3 separate regions of the Homo sapiens genome follow, and all the other regions are linked to region 3. The links come from fine-mapping of genetic effects on gene expression. A gene starts in region 3. Each other region holds a variant in brackets. All regions are shown on one strand. Distances are from middle to middle. Region 1 has its middle 45 kb from the start of ABTB3. Region 2 overlaps ABTB3 (ankyrin repeat and BTB domain containing 3). Region 3 holds the start of ABTB3 (ankyrin repeat and BTB domain containing 3).

What was found. PIP is the estimated chance that this variant, and not a neighbour inherited with it, causes the effect.
Region 1: its variant is fine-mapped to the expression of ABTB3 in monocytes (Fairfax 2014, PIP 0.95). The same link has a PIP of 0.9 or more in monocytes after interferon gamma.
Region 2: its variant is fine-mapped to the expression of ABTB3 in whole blood (TOPMed, PIP above 0.99).

What each region holds. Positions count from the first base shown.
Region 1 is chr12:107,272,263-107,275,111 of GRCh38, forward strand. No RefSeq gene overlaps it. Among named protein-coding and RNA genes, the nearest start is that of ABTB3, 45 kb to the right of the region's middle. The variant T/TTCCATCCATCCA (reference allele first, on the strand shown) is at 1,626.
Region 2 is chr12:107,368,444-107,370,943 of GRCh38, forward strand. All of the region lies in intron 1 of ABTB3 (ankyrin repeat and BTB domain containing 3), which reads left to right. Among named protein-coding and RNA genes, the nearest start is that of ABTB3, 51 kb to the left of the region's middle. The variant C/T (reference allele first, on the strand shown) is at 1,374.
Region 3 is chr12:107,316,779-107,319,583 of GRCh38, forward strand. It overlaps ABTB3 (ankyrin repeat and BTB domain containing 3), which reads left to right and starts at 1,656. Exons shown (of 17, transcript NM_001018072.2): 1 at 1,656-2,805. The coding sequence starts at 2,163. RefSeq lists an enhancer at 2,158-2,805.

The DNA.
Region 1 (2,849 bases), 44 kb before region 3:
TTACCAACATATATCTGTCTACTTTCTCTTGTTTAAAAAAAAAGAAACTTTAAAAAATGGGGTTATAAAACGTCAGCAAAGGGTGGGTTTGAGATGTTTGGGTGGGTTAAGTGGGCATTTTGACAACATGGCTTCTCCTTTGGCATGTTTAATTGTGACATTTGACAGATATCCTTGCTGTTTAAGATGACACTTTTAAAATAAATTCTCTCCTAATGATGACTTGAGCCCTGCCACTCAATGGGAGAATCAGCAGAACCTGTAGGATCTTATTTGGAATTGACATTCTCTATTGTAATTTTGTTCCATTTATTTTTAAATTTTCTTTTTGTTTCACTGGAAAGGAAAGATGATGCTCAGTTTCAAACATTAAAAGTGTGCAAGTTGCTTTGTTACAGTAAAACTAAATGTGTACACAAAAGATTTGATGCTTTTCTCTCAGCATAGGTATGCTTCCAATGACCTTCCAAGTTTGACTTGTATAACATCACTTTCAAACTTTGTCACTCTAACTTCATATTTTTTGATATGCACTTTGGAGGATGACCTCAGGGTTATGTGAACTGAGTAACGGGATTAGAATCAATGTACTAATATCTCCATAGCTGGGAAACATGGGTAAAATTTGCCATTGTTTTCTGAAATTATTCACATCATTTGAGATACCGGATTGCTCAATACTTTCTGAGTATATTGTGCCCTTGATTTTTATCTCCAAGTGGTAGTTTTTAAAATTGGCCTTTTACCTGGATATAAAATAATAGTGCCTGCCACCACCATCCAACAGACCTGGTGCTCTAATGCCAAGTTATACATGGGACAGTTGCTGGCACGTCTTCATTGGCTATATAAAATGTGGCCAAGAAGACAGGCTCTCAGAGTAAGAAGTCTGTGGTGGTTAGCAGTAACTTTCCCTACTCTCTGGTATAAAGCTCTCAAATGTGACTATGTGAATCTGGGTGGAATAATGGACTCAGCTCTGTCTGCTCAATGCTATTGTGCAGAGAAGTACCTTAATGCATAAGCTTTTTAATGCTGTAAAATACAGTAGCTGAAATTAAATGCCACTTTTTCAGAGGTGAATTAATGGACAGTCTGGTGAAATTCAAAAGGTTTTTGATGTATAGAACTTGATGAATGGAACTATTCCATCAATAGGCAAAAGTGTCACAACCTATCTAGATGGATAGTATGTAATTTCTGCACAGGTCTCTGTTTAGTAAATACATCACTGTATACTGATCAGGAATCTTGCTCCAGTAAAGGAACATAAAGACTTTTTTTTGGAAAAAGAAAAAAGAATATCCTATTATGCCCAGGTGCAGTGGCATACGCTTGTAGTCTCAGCACTTTGGGAGGCCAGAGCAGGCAGATCACTTGAGCCCAGGAGTTCAAGGACCAGCATGGACAACATGGAGAAACCCTGCCTCTACTAAAAATACAAAAATTAGCCAACATGATAGCTACTCAGGAGGCTGAGATGGGAGAATTGCCTGAGCCCAGGAGACAGAGGTTGCAGTGAGCTGAGATGGTGCCACTGCACTCCCGCCTGGGTGTCAGAGCAAGAGCCTGTCTCAAAAATAAAAAAAAAGAAAAAAAGAAAGAAAAGAATATACTATTTCCTA[T/TTCCATCCATCCA]TCCATCCATCCATCCATCCATCCATCCATCCATCCATCCATCCTTTCATCTCTGTCTTTTTTCCTATCCTGGAAGACCCACTTCCTCCAGGAAATCTTCCTTATATCCTCAATATCTTCAGCTACCCTTCATCTCCCTCATTTCTGTCAATTCATTAGAGTCTATAACACACAATTTAGCACTAAGTTACACAACTTAGGTTTTTCTCTTAATCACTTTGAAGATGTTGTTGTTTCAACTGGATTATAGATTTATTCAGAACAGAGAGTGCCACAGTGCCAAGCACAAAGAGGAACAAAGAGTGTTCAATGAACAAAGAAAATTACAGAACAACAAACATTTTATATCTAGAAAGGATCTCAAAAATAATGAAGTTTAATCTGCTTGATTTCAGAAGAAGAACTGAGGTTAATACAGAAGAAACATCCTTGGCTGATGAAATAGAAAGAATAAAATGGAGATTCAATATTATATTTACATGTAAAATATGTTTTATATATTTATAAAAATTACATATTATTTATGTAACAGAAGAATTTTCCCCCATCATACTGTGGAATGGTAGTTGGAGGATCATGATACGTTCAAGCTGGGAGGGAACTTAGAAGTGACGTAAGACATGCAATTTAAGTTTGTAGATGAGAAAACTTCCTCCTAGGAAAAGGAAAAGATTTGTCCAAGATCACCCAAGTTTTTAGTAGTAAAGCTGGGACTAGGATCCACACCTCCTTCTTCTCACTCCTATGATTATTTTCCACACTCCACTGTCACCAAATCCTTGCTTTAAGCTTCCATTCCTCACTAGACCATGCATCTGACATTAGGGCTCATTTGTCCCTCACAGTTTTAGTTCTATATCATTTATCCTTAACCATTCCATGCACCATTTTCCTTTTCAGCTTCTTCTTTCTGCTATCCATTTGTATTTACCTCTGCTTACTTTGTCCTTGATCTGTGGACTACACAGTTTGCCCTGTCTCCTTGGCTATAACCTTGATTCTGCTCCTCACCTCTGCCTTGGTGTAAATACCTTTCCCAGTTCAGCCTGGTCTCAGCACTGGGTGTCGCCTACTCTTGACTAATTCATGCATTGATTTAACACACATTTACTGTGCATGTCTTCTGTGAAAGTTTCTGAATGAAGAACACTTAGTATCTACTCAATATGCTCACAATCTATTGGTGAGAGAGGGATTTTAAAACAATATGGTAAGTGTGTTCAT
Region 2 (2,500 bases), 52 kb after region 3:
CTATCACATAGTTGGCACCCATCATATTTTGTGTCTATCCATTCTTTAATGATGGGCAACTAGTTGCATCCAATTCCCCAGTACCGTGAACAATAATGTTGTCATTATGGGAACAATCTCCTTTCACTTGTTCCCATATGGACCCCATGCAAGTATCTATACTCAGGAGTGGGTTGGTCGGGTCACAGGGTTTATACAAACTTGGTTTCGATAATCAGTACCAGGTGAGTCTCTGGAACTGCTATGCCAGTCTAGACCCCCACCAGTGGCGCGGAGGGGTTCCCATTTACCCATATCCTGTTTAACAATCAATATTACTCAACATTGTAATTTTGTAAATCTGTTGAGTATAATGTGGAATCTATTGTTACTTTCATTTTCATTTATCTTATTACTAACGAATTTGAGCATCTTTTCATCTGCCTGTTGACTATTCTGGTTTCCACTTCTGTGACCTGCCTATTCATATCTACAGACCATTTTTCTATTGCATTTCCTTTCTTTTCTCATTGATTTATAGGAGTTACATATGTAGTTAGATGTTAATTCTTTGTTGGGTTTAGACATTGTAAATATCACTTTCCACTCTGCCACCTCTCTGTTAACTTTGTTCACAGTGTCTTTTGTTGAACAGAAGCCCTAATTTTGATGTAATCAAATCTACCAACTTTTTTTTCTTTTTGCTTTTTGGTTCGTGCCTTGGGGATTTTATTTAAGAGGACCTTCCATGCCCTAAGTTCACAAAGGTATTGTTTCACTTTCTTCTGTTAGCTTTGTAACTTTGCTTTCACATTTAGGTTTTTCATCCACTTAGAGTCTACTTTCATATATTGTGTTTGAGAGGGATCCAAATTCATTTAGTGAGCCAGTTTTCTCGACATTATAGAACCATTCCTTTCCCCATCAAGATGAGATGCAACCTTTATTATAAATCAGGTTCAAACAAGGGTTTTTTTTTTTTTTTTTCTTTTTGAGATGGAGTCTCGCTCTTGTCACCCCGGCTGGAGTGAATGGTGTGATCTTGGCTCACTGCAACCTCTGCCTTCCACGTTCAAGCAATTCTCCTGCCCCAGCCTCCTGGGTAGCTGGGATTACAGGCACCCACCACCACACCCAGCTAATTTTTTGTATTTTTAAGAGAGACAGGATTTCACCATGTTGGTCAGGCTGGTCTCGAACTCCTGACCTCAGACGATCCACCCTCCTTGGCCTCCCAAAGTGCTGGGATTACAGGCATGAGCCACCATACCCAGCCCAAACATGGTTTTTTTTTTTTTTTTTTTTTTTTTTTCTGAGCTTTTGTTCTCTTCTGAGCTCTCTGCACCTTATTGTTCAAGAAATAAAACAGAATGAGTTTTGTTTGGCAGAATTTG[C/T]CTGGTGTATTCTGAGTAGGGGAGCCCTGATGATTTCCTGTAATGCTGGGAGGTGGTGAGGCATAATGAAACTAACATTAAACTTGGGGTCAGAGGAACCCAGGCTTGTTCCTGGCTCCACCACTTACAGCCACGTGAACTTGAACTACTCCCTCAACCTCTCTGAGCCTCCGTTTCTACATCTATTAAACAGCGATGATGATATGTATCGCCTAGGAATTCTGTAAGAGTTAAATGCTAGAATATATGTAAAAGCATAGCTTTCAGTAAACGTTATTTTCCCTTTGATCATTGTCACCAGACAAAAACTCTAACAGTAAGTGGTTTTCCCCAGGCCTCACCAAGGTAGGTATAAATTGGGAACACATTATTCCTGATCCCTCAAATGTCACTGCCTCTTGTTCTCGCCTGCTAATGGATGACTTCTCCTCAGTTCTTTCGTTCCTTCTGTGTATCCCCATGGTGGCCCATGTCGGTTCGTGGAAGCTTCCCGTTGACCTTCCCACCAATGAGCACACTTCCATTGGCACTGCAGAGGTTTCCAGGGACACACACTTTCTCTTCTTCCAAAGTCAGCCAATCAGCCCCACAGGCTTGGAGACAAAGGTAGATGTAGATGCTTAGCCGGGAATGTTGGACGAGTCCTCAGAGTGTGGCTCTTGCCTGGGCATTTCTTCACATGGGCTTTAGGAACACAGTATTTCTGCCTGGCTCCCCTTCCTCTCTCAGCCCTTTCCCCTGAAAAAATAGATAAAAATCAAGACAAAGCATGGTCTCTGGGTCACAGGCTTGAGGGAAGCATGGGAAGTGTTGCAGCCGTGCTCTGGACTGGGTGGCCTGGTGGGGCTGCTGAGCCTGTGCTGCTGGAAATAGTTTGGTTGAAAGGCCATGCAAAGCCAGCTCTGTGAAGGTGCTTCTTTGGCTGCCTATCAAAAAAGGGATTTTTTTTTTTTTTTTTTTTTTTTTTTTACAGTTTTGTGACTTAAGCTTTTGATCCCTTGGTTGTGGCTCTGTGCTGATACCTTTGCTGAGCCTTGAAGGGCTGTCAGGGTAGGCAGGAGGATCCAAAAGTTGTTTTCGACCCAGCACACTGGCCAAGAAAGGCTATCACCTTCCAAGAAGGGTGA
Region 3 (2,805 bases):
GGGACTACAGGTGTGCACCACCATGCCTGGCAAATTTTTGTATTTTTAGTAAAGATGGGGTTTCACCATGTTGGTCTGGCTGGTCTCCAACTCCTGACCTCAAGTGATCTGCCCGCCTCAACCTCCCAAAGTGCTGGCATTACAGGCGAGAGCCACTGCACTCGACTGAGATTTTATTTTCTTTGGGTGTATACTCAGAAGTGGGATTGCTGGATCACATGGTAGTTCTATTTTTATTTTTGGGAACCTCCATGCTGTTTTCCATAATGGCTGTACTCATTTACACCCCACCATCAGTGTACAAAGGTTCTCTTTTTTCCACATCCTTGCCAACACTTGTTATCTTTTGACTTTTTGATAATAGCCATCCTTACAGGTGTGAAGTGATATTTCATTGTGGTTTTGATTTGCATCTCCCGAATGATTAGTGATGTTGAGCATATTTGCATATACCTGTTGGCCATTGTTGAACATTCAAAGCAACAATTTAAAAGCATATCCTTACGTCCTTCATCAATTTACAACAAATATTTACTGAGCACTTATACTGTGCCAGGACTATGCATGGGAACCCCTAGCCCAGTGTAGAATCCAGACAAGTAACCAGGCTTTTGCAACCTAGTGTTGCAAGGGCCCAGAAATCAGCAACCACAGAAGGGGATAGAGGCAGTGGAAGCACCGAAGCCAGTCTTGAAACATCTGGGCCAGCTTCCTATAGGAGGGGATTCTAAGCTGAGAGACACAGTGTGCGGAGCTAGGAATCCCCATGTGTGTAAGATATGGTTTCTGCCTGGGTGGGTGGGGACAGACAAGTAGATGACACGATGCTATTTGACACAGGAATGCAGCTAAGCCATGCATATATATATTATATCTTTCTTTAGTCAGGAAAGAAGATTCTCCTTTGAGCAAATTTACTCCTTTTAAGAAGGCCGAGCTATTTGGAAAGATGCCCACCAGGATGGCAAAGTGGTGCTTGAGCCCTCCCTGCAGCACACGCCCAGGACTTTGAAGCAGGGACAGGGTCCTCCTGGCTACTGAAAGGAATCGAGTTAACGCGCCCTAGTGGCAGGTGGCGAATGGCCGGAGATCCGGCCTCCCAGTGGTGTCCACCGCCACGGGCCTCCGCTCGACAGGCTTATTTCCCTCCATGCTGGAGCAAACCCCGGCTGAAAGAGGGCCGCACTAATTGGTTTGCGTACCCGAAGTGGGAATAGAGAGGGAGGAAAACCATGTTTCAGGTGTTACGGGGGGAAAAAAGTGAAATGCGAACCGCAGGGGAGAGAGCGACCGTCAGGCAGACACCTTGTGAACCGCGGTGGAGAGCACACCTAGGTGGGGAGGTCACCGGCCCAACCCACCACCCTCCGGGAGAATGCGGGCAGGGACAGCAGCAGGGGGCAGCATCCACGTCTCTACGCTTGCAAGGGTTCCCCAAGTCCCTGGCCACTGCTCCCCACTTCCTGCAGCCTCGGTGTCCGCCGGGGGCGTGTGTGAGGGGCGGGGCCGCATGGGGAGGAGGGATTTAAAAAAAAAAAAAAAAAGCGAGGTAATTAGCATTCTCCGATTCCACTGGCTCTCCGCCGCCCCTGCTTTGCATACGCCCGTCCCACTGGCTGCCCGGGGTTTGCTGGGGTTCGGCAAGGTTTGCAGCCGCCACGGCCGCTGCTGCGCTCCGGTGCAGGGCAGGCTGGCGCCGAGCGAACCAGGGCCGGGAACTGGGAGCCGGGAGCCGGGAGCCAGCTGCCCGCGGAGCTGCGGCGGCGGCGGCATCTGGGGTGGTCTCAGTCCCACGAACACCGTGGCCGGCGCCCGGTGGCTACTGCGCCCAGCGGGGCTCAGGGAAGAGCGGTCTAGACACTTTTTATTTTGGAAGAAAGGGGCAAGCCCCGGCGGGAGCTTCCTTCCCGGCCTGGCTCGCTCCCCATTGCGCCCAGCTCCGGCCCGGACTCTGGAAGATGACTCCAGGGTCTGCTCTGTATATTCCAGCGGCGGCAGTTCCGGGAGGCAGCCGAAAGTACTAACAGTTGGTAGCAGCGGCTAGTGGAAAAGTGAGCCAAGGCGGCGCGGACTCGGCTCTCCCCGCGCCCCGCGGCACTCGCTGCTCCTCGCCGCTCCTTCCCTTTGGCTCCCAGGCGGCTGCAGCATGAAGTGGCGCAGCGATGGCCAGGAGAGGTAAGAAGCCCGTGGTGAGAACGCTGGAGGATCTGACGCTGGACTCGGGTTATGGTGGCGCGGCGGACTCGGTGCGCTCCTCCAACTTGTCTTTGTGCTGTTCCGACTCGCACCCGGCGTCCCCGTATGGCGGGAGCTGCTGGCCGCCTCTAGCTGACTCCATGCACAGCCGGCACAACAGCTTTGACACTGTCAACACTGCCCTGGTGGAAGACTCCGAGGGGCTGGACTGCGCCGGCCAGCACTGCTCGCGGCTGCTGCCGGACCTAGACGAGGTCCCCTGGACTCTCCAGGAGCTGGAGGCGCTGCTGCTGCGTTCGCGGGATCCCCGGGCAGGCCCGGCGGTCCCCGGCGGCCTGCCCAAGGACGCGCTGGCCAAGCTGTCGACGCTGGTGAGCCGGGCGCTGGTGCGCATAGCCAAAGAGGCGCAGCGCCTGAGCCTGCGCTTCGCCAAGTGCACCAAGTACGAGATCCAGAGCGCCATGGAGATCGTGCTGTCCTGGGGCCTGGCCGCGCACTGTACGGCGGCTGCGCTGGCCGCACTGTCCCTCTACAACATGAGCAGCGCCGGCGGCGACCGCCTGGGCCGCGGCAAGTCGGCCCGCTGCGGCCTCACCTTCTCCGTGGGCC